Linked DNA regions of Homo sapiens. The protein of the gene in region 3 purifies or fractionates together with the protein of the main gene of each other region. This does not show direct contact. Each region holds a gene or a part of one and is shown on either strand. Other genes may lie near its edges.

Evidence for each region. Proteins that work in one complex are often made in the same cells at the same time.
Region 1: the proteins of CSNK1E (region 3) and FAM110C purify together in Homo sapiens (affinity purification with mass spectrometry; 3 studies listed by BioGRID and IntAct, with this or other methods). This does not show direct contact.
Region 2: the proteins of CSNK1E (region 3) and RASAL2 purify together in Homo sapiens (affinity purification with mass spectrometry; 3 studies listed by BioGRID and IntAct, with this or other methods). This does not show direct contact.
Region 4: the proteins of CSNK1E (region 3) and PCMT1 purify together in Homo sapiens (affinity purification with mass spectrometry; 3 studies listed by BioGRID and IntAct, with this or other methods). This does not show direct contact.

What each region holds. Positions count from the first base shown.
Region 1 is NC_000002.12:40,910-43,505, reverse strand, and holds part of FAM110C (protein FAM110C), read left to right. Parts: intron 1-440; coding exon of another isoform or gene 441-547; exon of another isoform or gene 548-697; intron 698-1,200; exon of another isoform or gene 1,201-1,388; intron 1,389-1,878; coding exon 1,879-1,898; 3' UTR 1,899-2,596. UniProt on the Homo sapiens protein: May play a role in microtubule organization. May play a role in cell spreading and cell migration of epithelial cells; the function may involve the AKT1 signaling pathway.
Region 2 is NC_000001.11:178,475,104-178,479,350, reverse strand, and holds the end of RASAL2 (ras GTPase-activating protein nGAP), read right to left. Parts: 3' UTR 501-4,247; downstream 1-500. UniProt on the Homo sapiens protein: Inhibitory regulator of the Ras-cyclic AMP pathway.
Region 3 is NC_000022.11:38,310,934-38,314,433, reverse strand, and holds part of CSNK1E (casein kinase I), read left to right. Parts: intron 1-264; 5' UTR 265-276; coding exon 277-352; intron 353-3,500. Other genes in the region: TPTEP2-CSNK1E (casein kinase I), read left to right, coding at 277-352.
Region 4 is NC_000006.12:149,801,741-149,805,240, forward strand, and holds part of PCMT1 (protein-L-isoaspartate(D-aspartate) O-methyltransferase), read left to right. Parts: intron 1-459; coding exon 460-639; 3' UTR 640-676; exon of another isoform or gene 677-791; intron 792-1,384; exon of another isoform or gene 1,385-2,053; intron 2,054-3,500. UniProt on the Homo sapiens protein: Initiates the repair of damaged proteins by catalyzing methyl esterification of L-isoaspartyl and D-aspartyl residues produced by spontaneous isomerization and racemization of L-aspartyl and L-asparaginyl residues in aging peptides and proteins.

The DNA of each region.
Region 1 (2,596 bases), on a different chromosome or scaffold from region 3:
TGAGAACTTTCACTTTTATGACAAAGAGAAATAGTTGAAGGAAGAGGGAAAGTGAGAGCAGGTTTGGGAAGGCACTAAGGATGGAGGCAGGAAAAAGGCTCATGGGCTTCTTCCTCCCCTCATGTCTCCCTCCACCTGAATCCCGTTTGTTCCAGACTGGAGACAATGGCAACTGTCTTCTGAGAAGTTTCACATTATTTCTCAGAGCAGGGGTACAGTCCCACAGAAGCTACCCCAGTTTTTATATGGAATTGGCAGTCACCAGCACTATAAAGATTTTCTTTACTAATGTACTTCCCTAGACCCAAAACAGCACAGGCCTCTTTGAAACTGCAATGCAGAGACTTACTGCCCGGCTACCAGGGGTGGGGTGTATGAGGAGAACAGAGTTGCCTGGGCTTTCTCCAGATCACCGGAACAGTGTCTGCTCATGACCTTAGCCCCTTCACAGCTCCCCACCTCCCAGCACTGGTGTTCCCACTGGAGGAGACCAGCAGGGAAAGCCACGACAGAGTGTGAACACCTGGTCAGTGGGGCGGTCCTCTGACTTCCTGCAGAAGTCCCTTGTTCTGAGACCAGTTCTGCAACTTCTGGAAGATGTGGAAGCAGGAATTTAAGCTGTGCTTTTTCTGCTGAAATTTATAAGGATTCATTTTAGGATTTCTTGAAAGATTCAGAAAACTTGAGACGAACAAAGGTAGGTTTTCTAAGTGAAAGAGAAAACAAATATATTTGGAGGTTTTTGTCCTCTTGGTAGATAGAGATTTACAACTTATAATAAAAGTGTCTCAATTATAATAGAACTAAATACGTTTATAAGTTTCTTGCCCCATGGGGTAAAGATAATTGCTTTTCAAAACTGAGACTATCACAACTGGGCAATGACTCGTATAATCCGCACACAAGTCCTCTGGGGAACCCATGAGCAGTAGTTGGTTGTACATGGGTAATTTTGGTATTCTGTTTCCCAGAGCTTAGTTTATGAAAATATCTCTTTTATCTGCTGTGATGTAGTCATCTTCCTGTCTTTCAATTCATCAAACTAGGGACTTGTCAAAATTTAGATCTTTCTGGTTTTCTGTTTTGCGTAGAATATATAAGTTGCTGCTTTTAATACTGGCATAAATAACTTGTCCTTTGGGAAATTAGGCATAAAACATTGCTTAATTTCAAGGCAAAAATGTTCGGACAATTCCACAGCTATCTTCACATTTATCCTTGACACAAAGAAAAAAGAAATACCTGTAGAAGCGCATCGAAAGCTCCTGGAACAGAGTTGTGTCTCATATTTGCAAAGATGCAGAAAAAATAAACCCGGGACATCCAGCTTTCTTTTCCTTTCTTCTTTGACTATTCTGAGAAGCTATGCGACTAGGAGCACATTTTAGGTAAACACGTGGCTTGAGTAGCCATAAGGCCACTCTTCCCTGTCGTGTGACCCGCGCCTGGGCCTTTAAGAGATATTGGTGTTTGAAAAGGGAGGAATCTGTTTGCCCTCAGATATTTAGTTCAACTGCCTGCATTGCTTCCTATTTTGTTGTCCAACTCTGTAGTAGTTAGCACTGGCCTTACCAACATGTAAAGAAATTTTCTTTACTGCCCCATGAGTAGTTGGAGGCAAAGAGAAATTTTTAAAGCGCAGAAAAAGGCCTGCAGGGAGATGGAATTTGTTCTGCCAGAGAAACGAGATGATAGCTGTATTTAATAAAGTTACTGACCTCTTGTCAAAATTTAAAACGCAAAAGAAGATGTTTCAAAATGCAGAGAATGTCAGAAAACAAAAACTACAGGGACCAGACCAGTATAATGTTTAGTTTTCATTATACTAACTTTTGTCTAGACTGGAGTTGATTCACTATTTTTTCTTTAACTCCTCAGGAAGCAAACCTTCCCGATGATGAAGACTTCTTGAAGGATTTCATGGGTGATTTGGGATCCCAGGACCATTTGGCTAGTGTGCCTAGGTGACCACATGATTGCTGTTTTACCAGGAATGCAGCATCCCATTGACAAAACAAGTGCTCTGAGAAGGTTTAAAATACTACAGAGAATATGGGAACACAGACCTTGAAATTTAGCTGAGTTGTAACAGCTGAAACTCCAAGAGGTGTCTTCCTTGTTTGAGGTGAAACTAGTGTTGCTTCCAGAGGGCAGCTGGAAACCGTAAAGCTGTTTGGAAATCTTTTTGACTGACTTGCTGACAAAGAGGTACTGTGATGCATTTTAACAATATCTAAGTTGATTTTTTTTTAAATCAAGGAAAATAAAAACCAAGCATGAATGCTATGGTATGTGCCCCTTTTGACCATCCTGGGCTGATTAACATCATTTAAATCAAAGTAATCATAAAAAGGCATATTCTACTTCAATTATGTGGTCAAATAAGAGTAAACACACACACTCACACATGCTGACCCCAATTGCCAGAGCATTACTGCACTATAAATTACGGTTAATTCCCAAATTATACTACTGTTTATCTTATTTAACAAGTCAGAAAGCACTTTTAAAATAACTTGAGGGCTACAAGGTCATTCTATTAATGTCATTCTCCATTCGGGTTGTAGGCATGTGGAAGTACCCATTAAAAGATAAG
Region 2 (4,247 bases), on a different chromosome or scaffold from region 3:
GAAACAGGGATGCAGGAGAAGATGGGTGTATTTGGGAACAATCATGTTGGGAATGACAAATGAACTTCTATTAAGAAATTAAAATAAAAAACCTGAACCAAACATCAAAAATCCTGAAAACAAACCCCATTAATCTAACTGGAAAATTACAAGAGGATGGTAGTGGTCTAGGAAGCTAAGTGGGGCTACATTTCCTAATAAACCAGATGAAACTTTCTTTACCTGTCACAAGTTATTAAAGAGATTTCAAATTCTGCAGAATTCGAAAGTAACAGTTTTATCACAATACATGCTAATGCTAGTTATTTTTCCTAAATTGAAATCTTATTACATGGAAGTTGGGAAATTCTAGGACAGACTGTTCTTAATGTTAAAATATATTTTTAGAAGAATATTCCGGCATACATTTCCTTTCTTGTTTCTCTTCAAGTGTCCTAGTCACCCAGGTGCATGCTAGAAGACAGCAATATGTCAAATATAGTAGCAACTTTAGTCTGAAATGTTTAAAGTTAAAGTTTATTTGTATTCTTTGTAGGAATATCAATAAAAGACCTCAAACGTATCTATATCTGTACATGTACAAGAACTGTCAAAAATTATTCACAGAACAAAAATAAATCTTCTTTAGAACAAACCCAGGTAATGAAATGCTGATACGGATCTCACATACGGAATAATCTAAATGCTACTAGCACAAAAATATGGCTTTAAAAATAAAATAAAATCTTGGGTTTTGTTTTTCTAAGGTGTATTTCTCTTTCTTGAAATAAAAAATAAATTATTTAGAGCTATCATTGTAAAATAGTCGTGTGTTAACACACTCTTATTAAGGCCCTGGAGATGAAAAACAAAATCAAATTTAGAAGGTCATTTCCTCACAGGTGTAACTCAGGTTAATGTGCTGCTGTCTGCTTAAGTTAATATAACTAGGAAATGTCTAAGCACCAGTCAAAATTTAACCTAATTTACTATTTAACTTTCCTGAAGGTGGTCATTGAGTCAATTAGTATTTAACCTTTTGTTGAACTGGGAATTGAAATGTTTCCCTCGAAAATTTGGAAATCACATAAAATGATATTTACACATAAATATCTGTACCCCCACAAAGATGATGGAGGTCCCTAAAACACAACTTCTGTGGAAATCTCTCTACAACAACAAATAAATCTGGTTTTAAGTCTCAAACTAAAAAAAAAAACAAAAAACTTCCTAGGGTCAAATGAGGGTATTTAAGTGGAAGATAGCAACTGAGTAGGAAAGGAAAATGCATGCTGAAATGCAGGCAAAGACTACCACTTTCCTTTCCTCGGGTGCTCACTGCATTTCCCAAGTCTTGCTGTGTTGGTTACTCAAACACTTGAGGCTTAACTGATCAGGAACTGAAACTACTTATTTCTGGATCCTACTCTCAGATCAATGATATTCAACTTTATTTCTATGATTCCCCATGGTATCAATAATGATATCTAGGGTTCTTGAGACAATGCCAAACCAAGTCAATTTCAAGTTGCTTTAACTTATATATACATATAACACATATAGTACATTTTTTAGGATGATAGAATGTCATAAAATCTAACAGACGAGAGCATAAAATCTGAAAATCTCAAAGTTTGGGAATCACTGCTCGATAAAATGGATTAACATTCAGAAAAAGGAAGCCCCAGGAATTATGTTTTGTGTGGGTGTGTGCATGTGTTGTCTACAGAGACTGCCTTTTTATGTATCTATGTATTTTAAGAGTGGGCAAGGGATATAAATATTCCTGTTTCCTGGAAACTCTGGGCTACTGAGAAGACTGCTTATGCATTCATTCCCTTAGGGTCGTGTCTCTTCCTCAGGTTCTTTCACTCCTCCTAAGATATTTATTCTATCTCATGCAAATTTCATCACTTTTGTCCTTCCTAAACCCAAGAGTATACATAATCGGGTCATGACAAAGAGAATGCTTCTAGAACTAATAACAATCATTCAAACATGAAAAGAGATTCTATTTAAAAATTCAACACTCCAACATTTCTTGCTTTTAAGAAACTAAATCCTTCAACTGACGCATTGAAAAAACAAAGTATCTCAAATTATCGGCCCCCAGGTAAGGGGTAGGAAGGCAACTATTTACTGCTGGGGTAAGCAGGAGATTTCACTATTAGACTTGAAAAAGGGAAGGAGAATGGAGAAGGGAGCCCTTCTGGCTTTCCACAGTTGATAGGAGAAGGTGGCCTCCAAAGGTGTAGCTGAAAATGCAGTGAAGCTATGGCATGTGGCTGTTGGGTTTGGCCCTGTGACAAGTCTAGTCTGGTGTCAAGCGTGTGTGTTGGGCTCAATGTCACAATGGGGTAGACTGATGGGACTGAGGTAATCCTGAAGAGGGTTCCTTTCCCACGCTCAGTCCTATAACCAGCCTTCTCAGGAACTCCAAGCTAGAGGTAACTAAAACTAACCCTCTATGGAAGGGGAAACAAATACGAATGCAAACTCACTTGATGGCAGTTATTTTGCTCTGGGACTTCCAAAGAAGAACTCTGCTCTCAATCTGGTGTACCTCTGAGAACACAGTGAAAGCCAGGGGTCTACAGAACCACAGACCCATCAACAAAGGCCCCGGGTAGACTAAGATCTGAAAAGCTTTACTTCCAAAGTCAAGCTCATTCTTAAGGGCATATAGTTAACACTTGTAGCAGTCTTAGGTAATCTTCTTTTTCTTTCATAATCTTAACACCATCACAGAGAAACACGGAAGCAGACCAGTCAGAGAAAGCTAATTCTGACCAACTTGATACTATATGAAAAAAAGCAAAAAGCTATAGCAGCATGATTACCTCATTTTACCACATTTTTCTTACCGTTAGACTGCCATAAACCCCAACAGTACCTTGGTGATAGTGCTTGGAACATGGTAAGTGCTCAAGTGCTTGTTATAGTTACCTAGTTATAATCTCCCCTCTGACATGGCTTTTGCTGCAGAGACTCAGGGAATATGATGACCTGATGGAAATGTGACTCTTTTTGCTGCTTCAGCTCAGATTGCTTATTGCTTCAGTAATATAAAAGGGGAATATGAAGCTCTTTTCTGACTCCTACCAACACTGTCCTCATTAATGGTCAAGTCTGTTGTCAGCTAGACATGCACTTTACAAGCACTTCACCTGAATTCCAAATTCCACTCAACCCTGATCTATCCTGCGCCCCACAATGTGGTGTTGTTTTGAGGGAAACAGGAAGTGCAAGACATTGCTATCTTAATCTATTTGCCTCTCTTCAGCCATGTACCTCCTCCCAGCAAACAAAGTTATTTACCTACTTGAACTGAGGGAAAGCCAATTAAGAAACATCTCCATAAAAATTATCACCTGTTGGTGGCTTCTCTTCTTAAAAAATCCTTCAGAGTAACTTATACAGATTGCAGCATTCTCTAAAGAAATACTGAGAAAAAAGGTTGGACAGGAGTAGGCTCACAGGATAACTTAACATTTAACATCTATCAGCAACTCTGAACTTTTAGCTTATTGGTAATGCTCTATTATTATTATTTTTTACTATTTCTTCTTCATTCAAGATAACCTGGTAGTAGAAGGCTGCATAATCTGTCCAAATGTTTTGGGCATTAAATCTTTCAGTGAAGACAGCCCTCTAAGGAGCTCCCATAATGCTAATAAGATACACTCTATCCATCAAAAGCACATTTGATTTTTTGGGGCTTCTCTCAATTCCCAATATAAGTAATTTTATCAGCCCTCTGTAATCCATAATCGGCACTTAAGAGCTTCCAAACCTCAATGGCAAGACATCACCCACATTACATACTTATGGCCAATGAAACTGACAATTCTCTTACCAGGTTTTCTGTGGCACAATTGAAGGCTTTTACAAAGAATGAATTAAACATGGCTTGAGCTGAGAATAGCCAGAAACAAGAACAAATCTATGCTTACATCCCTCCTCCTTCAACAAAGGACACTACACTTTGGAACAGTTACCTCTTTTTCCTAATAAAATAAGTGATTTTGACCACAGTGTGCCCTCCGCTTGGAGAGAAGGTGTAAGAATTTGCAAACCAAAACCAAAGGTGAAGAAAACGTAAAAGTGCCAAAACAGCTGGATATAAAGTGTGCAGATCAGATAAACACAGTGAGAAACTCCCATTTTAGATCTGTCTGGCAGAAACAGGGATTGCTATGAAAGAAACTGTTTTAAAAGGTTGTGGGTTATGTGGCCATGGTGAGGTTGCTGAAACGTAAGGTCCAACA
Region 3 (3,500 bases):
TTGAGGGGCCCCTGAATGAGCATCCCCCAAAGACATGCTTGCTTGGCTGCTTCCTCTCTGGCCACACTGAAACCTGTCCTCAGCCTGCCTTAGCTGTTCCCCAGGTGTGTGGAGTGCAGGCTGTGGGCCACCTGACACCTGCAGAATGTGGTCTTCGAGAATGCAGGTTTTCGAGTTCCTGGTGGCTCTGCCTGGCCTTGGTGGACTGGACCCCTTTCCCGGCTCCCCACGTCGCTGACCCTCATGTTCCTGCTTCCTCTGCAGCAAGAGTGAGCCATGGAGCTACGTGTGGGGAACAAGTACCGCCTGGGACGGAAGATCGGGAGCGGGTCCTTCGGAGATATCTACCTGGGTAAGTGTTCCTAGCTCCAGCTGGAGCCCCTGGGGCCAGCCCATGGGACCAAGAGGAGGAAAGACCCCAGGATTTGGGGATCTGAAGTCAGAATGTGGCTCCAGGGGCATGATTTGCCCCAGGGCCATCCCAGATGGGGAAGGAAGCAGCAGGTTGCCGGGAGGCAGGCCAGGGGGCTCCTCTCGCAGGCCAGGCTGGGCACTGGAGGGTATTTTTAGCTCCAGTTTCTGCAGGAGTCATGCGGTTCTTTTGTGCCTCAGTGTCCCGGGTCAGCTGGGTCACCAGCTGGGTGTGGGAAAACCCAGGCGGGGTTCACATCCTCTCCCCTGCTTCCTGGGAGAAGGATATTGGTAGATAGAAGGGACTTGGGTTGCTGCTGGACCCCTAGCCAGGCCCCCCTCTCTATGTCCTGGCCTCCTGGAACCCAGCCCAGGCAGGCTTTGGGATGACGCAGGCTCCCCTGTAACCTCGGGGGTGGGGTGGGGGGATGCGGTCTCCTCATTAGGGAGTTCTCTCTCTCTCTTTTTCTCTCCGGATGTGCTTCCTGTTGAAAGTATGAGTATGCTGTGATGTTGCATTTTAAACAAATCACTGACCTCTCAGTCCTCCCCTTGGCCTGGGAGAAATGAGGCTTGCGCCTTTCAGTGCCACTTCTGAGGGGCACGGTCATGAGTCTTGGCCCTTCCTTTGTGCTTATTGGTCCAAAGGGAAGGTATTTAGTGTTGGTGCTTGTGGATTAGCGGGTGGAGGCTTGAAGTTGCTGGAGTGAGGTGGCCAGCCCTTCTACGAGTTATCCTCATTCCTGTCCCTGCACCCTCAGAAGCAGGCTAGACACACCTCTGTGCCTTGGTTACCCTCCTTGGAAAATGAAAATCAGCTCTGTCCAGTGCAGAGAACACCAAGTCTGTGTGTCGTGTCCATCAGCTCAGAACTTCGGGGTTTCTGTTACCCCATGGTTAGGGTTCCTTGGAGTATGAAATGTGCTAAGGAAGCCTCAATGGAGACGGGGACGGAGACTGGGAGTTCCCTGACCACTTCCTTGCAGGGTACTTTCTGCAGCCCCTAGAGATAGTACCAGATTATTTGTTTGGCACATCAGGAAACTGAGGCACAGATGGTCAAGTTGGCCTCCCAAGACCGCTCTAGAAAACTGGCAGAAGCAGCCTGTATGCCCACAGCCCTCCACATGAGTGAGAGCGTGGAAGACAGAACATGCCGAGGGAGACGTTAGACGTCTAGCTCTGCGTTCTAGACGTGGCTTTGTGTGGCTGTGGGAAGGTCATGCAGCTCCTCTGTGCCTCAGTGTCCCCATCTGTAGTTTGTGATAATGCTGCCTGACTGACCAAGAACTGTTCCAAGGCAGAGATGAAATGACAGATGGGAAAGTATTTTGTAAACTCTAAAGTGCCAGCCAGATGTGCAGTTCATTGCTGAGTGCTTAGTAGATGAGCCTCCCCTATGGACACCCTGGAGCTCAGAGGGAGGGAGAGTGTGTGGTGCAGCTGGTTTAAAGGTTTTTCTCTGCGACCCCAAGCTACTCCCGGGGAGGCAGGCATTTGGTAATATCTGCTAGTGCCCAGCGCAGTGGGTGTTCACTGAAGGCTAGTCAAGCAAACCAATGAGAAAATGGGGATTGTGACATGCACAGACATGCACAGTAGCCTCACAGCAGAATAGAAAAATGCCGGGATGGCCAGGTGCGGTGGCTCACACCTGTAACGCCAGCACTTTGGGAAGCCAAGACAGACAGATTGCTGGAGTCCAGGAGTTCGAAACCAACTTGGGCAACATGGTGAGACCCCATCTCTACAAGAAAAATATAAAAAGTAGCTGGGCATGGCGGCACGCGCCTGTAATCTCAGCTACTCAGGAGGCTGAGGTGGGAGAATCACCTGAGCCATGGAGGTTGAGGCTACAGTGAGCTGAGATCACACTCCAGCGTGGGTGTCAGAGTGAGACCATGTCTCAAAAAAAAGGAGGCCAGGAGATATGGCTCACACCTGTAATCCCAGCACTTTGGGAGGCCGAGGCGGGCAGATCACTTGAGGTCAGGAGTTCGAGACCAGCCTGGCCAACATGGTGAAACGCTGTCTCTACTAAAGATACAAAAATTAGCTGGGTGTGGTGGCACATGCCTGTATCCCAGGTACTCTGGAGGCTGAGGCGGAAGAATGGCTTGAATCTGGGAGGTGGAGGTTGCAGTGAGCTGAGATCGTGTCATTGCACTCCAGCCTGGGCGACAAAGCAAGACTCCATCAAAAAAAAAAAAAAAAGAAGGAAAGAAAAGGGCTGAGATGTGGGGGCCAGTCCAGGTTCAGATCCCCAGCGTGTTCCTCATTTGCTGTGTGACCTGGAGTAAGTCACCATATCATTCTGAGCCTCAGTCTTCTCATCTGAAATGAGTGTACCCAGCTCCTTACTGTTTGTGAAATTGGAGTGGGTGTAAAGGACCCTCGTATTATTGAAGCTGTTGGGCTGAGCACTGAAGTCTGGAGCCACTGGCTGGAGGTCAAAGGGCATGGAGACAGCTCTTGGCACAGACTTGTTCCTAGACAGCGCCCATCCCAGGTCCCGTCGCTCTTTTTGCAGACAGGAGACAGGCCCATGGCTGGAGCGGGGACAGCCCAAGATCACTCAGAAAATCCAGAATCTTGTGTGGTGGGACCTCCCTGGGGACAGGACTTCCTGTTTATCTGCATAGTCATCTCATTCATTTTAAAAACTAAGTACAGATTTACTCCTCTTTGTACTGGCTCTAGAGTAAATTCGACCTAGGTTTGGGTGCTGGTTCTTCCTTTTGTGAGCTGTATGCGCTTGAGCAGGTGATGACCTTGTCCATCCTTGGCTTCCCCATCTGCAAAATGGGGTCGTGCAAAGTAATGAGGTCGTGGCGTGTAAAATACCCACGTGTGCTGGGCCCAGCAGTAGTGCTGTGCGCTGCGCCCCCACCATTGGTCTTAGTTTCTAGTTCGGAGTTGATTTCGAAGGGTCTGGGTCCTCTGGGTCTGAGTCTGGGGAGGCGAGTCAGACTCCTGACTCTCCCATCTTCACTGGTGCAAGGGCCTCAGGGGACCCTGCCCTGACTCACCATCCTGCCAGCACCCTCCTGGGCCCCTGTCTTGTTGGTTTGGGGACAGTGGTGATTGTA
Region 4 (3,500 bases), on a different chromosome or scaffold from region 3:
TCTGGCCTTAATTTGTATATACTAAATAAAGAACGTTTCTGCTTTCTGCCTATGGACACTAAAAGTTGTTTATAATGATGTCAAATGACTATTAATATAAAATCTGGGCCGGGCACAGTAGCTCACGCCTGTAATCCAAGCACTTTGGGAAGCCGAGGTGGGTGGAGTACTTGAGGTTAGGAGTTCGAGACCAGTGTGGCCAATATGGTGAAACCTTGTCTCTACTAAAAATACAAAAATTAGCTGGGCATGGTGGCGTGTGCCTGTAGTCCCAGCTACTTGGGAGACTGAGGCAGGAGAATCACTTGAACCTGGGAGGCAGAGGTTGCAGTGAGCTGAGATCGTGTCATTGCACTCCAGCCTGGGCGACAGAGTGAGACCCTGTCTCAAAAATAAATAAATAAAATAAAATAAAATCTGTAACTTGGTGATGTATGTGCTTTTTTTTTTTTCTTTTAGCTAATAGATCAGTTAAAGCCCGGAGGAAGATTGATATTGCCTGTTGGTCCTGCAGGCGGAAACCAAATGTTGGAGCAGTATGACAAGCTACAAGATGGCAGCATCAAAATGAAGCCTCTGATGGGGGTGATATACGTGCCTTTAACAGATAAAGAAAAGCAGTGGTCCAGGTGGAAGTGATTTTATCTTCTGCTCTTTCTTCTTCCACACATGCAAGGTGAAAGGGTGTGGATTTTAAGACATTAGACTACAAGAGCTGTTTTTGGTTGTCACCTTTATGCTCCTCCATTATAACGTCAGAAATTCATTACATTAAAAATGTGAAAAATGTTGCATGGTCTGCCCTTATTTTGGTTTAACATATATATCTTTGGGAAAGGGAGGGTGAGACTTGGTTGGCACAAAGGCTTTTTTTGTTTGTTTGTTTGTTTTTTTTTTAGAGAGACTTTCAGCTTCAATTCAGTACTTTGTAAGGATTTTTTCTTCATTATCAGCCACTCTGTTTTTATGTTTTTAAATTATTTTTATAGCACTGGATGGGCATGGAAACAATGAGTTTGGTCTGTAAAAGAGGCCAGGCGGAGTGGCTCATGCCTGTAATCCCAGCACTTTGGGAGGCCTAGGTGGGCGGATCACTTGAGGTCAGGAGTTTGAGACTAGCCTGGCCAACATGGTGAAACCCCGTCTCTATTAAAAATACAAAATCAGCTGGGCGTGATGGCACAGGCCTGTAATCCCAGCTACTCGGGAGGCTGAGCCAGGAGAATTGCTTAAACCCTGGAGGCGGAGGTTGCAGTGGGCCGAGATTTTGACACTGCACTCCAGCCTGGGAGACAGAGCAAGGCTCTGTCTCAAAAAAAAAAAAAAAAAAAAAAAAAAAAAACAAGGGGCCATCATTTCCTGCCCTGTTTATTGTACCAACAAGGAGAAAGAAGGGGAAAGATAACGGTCGTCTCAGTTTTCTAAAATGTCAGAATACCAGAGAGGACATTCTACCTCTCAGCTTGGTTTATCTGTTTCAACCAAATCATAGATACCTGACAGCCCATGCCTATTTTTCATTCAGCCTTGTTTAAGAGTCACCTTCTCCCCATTCTATAGAATAGGCCAGCCACTGTTTAAGCTATTCTGGCTAAATTCCTAGGAAGAGGCAAGGATTCTACAAGTTACCCAATGAGTGCCCAGGTCTCACAAACCCACCCAGAGGGTCAGCAGCATGCAGCAACTTTCAGCACAGCATGGTTTATAAAGAATGTCCACTTTTGTTTTATGTCTCAGCATAATCTGAATATTTTGTTTGAAGCCAAGATTTCTCTTTTCCTCCCCTTCCCACTCCCTTCCATGAGAGAGAGTGACATCAGTACATAACAGTGCCATTAGCTCAAATTACTTGAAATTAAATGCCAAAACAAGAACGGCTTTACAGTTTCCTTGTCTTAGCATCTTATTTTTATTTGACATAAAGATTCTTATTTTAAAATAATTAGTTTCTTAATAAGTAAAAGGGGTGATAATAAGTTTAATAGATCTCTCAATGTTGTTTTTATTCTTCACCAATAGCTATTTTCTGTGAATTATACGTGGAGCACAGCCACTGGAAAAAAAAAAAAAAAAAAAAGCATTTTAGTCCAGGCATTTTGGGAGGCTGAGGTGAGCCAATCATCTTAAGTCAGGAGTTTGAGACCAGCCTGGCCAACATGGTGAAACCCTGTCTCTACTAAAAACACAAAAATTAGCTGGGCATGTTGGCTTGCATCTGTAGTCCCAGGCACTCAGGAGGCTGAGGCAGGAGAATTGTTTGAACCCAGGAGGCAGAGGTTGCAGTGAGTCGAGATCACACTACTGCCTTCTAGCCTGGGTGACAGAGCGAGACTCTGTCTCAAAAAAAAAAAAAAAAAAAAAAATTAAAAAGGCATTTAAAAAATTACTGGTTTTTTCAACTGGAATCAGATGTAGTTATTAACAACTAACTAAAACCTTCCTTCACTTTGCTTCTAGTATGGTTTATACAATTACATAATTGTGAGATTATTGTAGTATAAAAGGGGCAAATATGTTACTGAAATTACTGAAATTTGATAAGAAGAGTTGATTTTCATTAGCAACTTAGAAATTTTTCTTTTTATATACAATAAATATTAGTGTTGAACATCTTGCCTATAATTTATAATTTATAATTATGAAGGAATTATAAAAAGGGAATTTTGTTTTTATGACTAGAGGTAGATTTACTGTGAAGCTAACAAAGCTGAAGCTGCAGAGCCCTTGCTTGTCTAGGTTTTCTCTGACCCTGTTCTTAATTTAATTTAATTTAAAAAAGTGTTTTTTTTGAGACGGAGTCCTGCTCTGTTACCCAGGCTGTGTAGAGCAGTGGTGCAATCTCAGCTCACTACAACCTCCGTCTCCCAGGTTCAAGCAATTCTCCTGCCTCAGCTTCCCAAGTAGCTGAGAGTATAGGCGCCCAGCTAAATTTTGTATTTTTAGTAGAGAAGGGGTTTCACCATGTTGGCCAGGCTGGTCTCGAACTCCTGACCTCAGGTGATCTGCCCGCCTCGGCCTCCCAAAGTGCTAGGATTACAGGTGTCAGCCACCATGCCTGGCCCTGTTCTTAATTTTATATTATGCATAGTCTTACTGATTTTTTTTTTAACTTCATAAAAAGGTTCCCCTGTTTTCTAATTATATAAACCTTAGGCCCCCACAAAACCTGAATCCACCTTTGATAAAACCAAACTATTTGTATTAAGAAATTTAAAATAGGGCCAGGTATGGTGGCTTATGCCTGTAATCCCAATGCTTTGGGAGGTTGAGGTGGGAGGATCACTTGAGGCCAGAAGTTCAAGAGAAGCCTGGGAAACATAGTGAGACCTCGTATCTACTAAAAATTTAAGAACTAGCCAGGCGTAGTGGTGTGCACCTCTAGTTCTGGCTACTTGGGAGGCTGAGATAAGAGGATCACTTAAGCCCAGAAGCGGCAGTGAGCTGTGATCACCACAGCATTCCAGGCTGGGCAACAGAGCAAGACCTTATCTTTAAAAAAT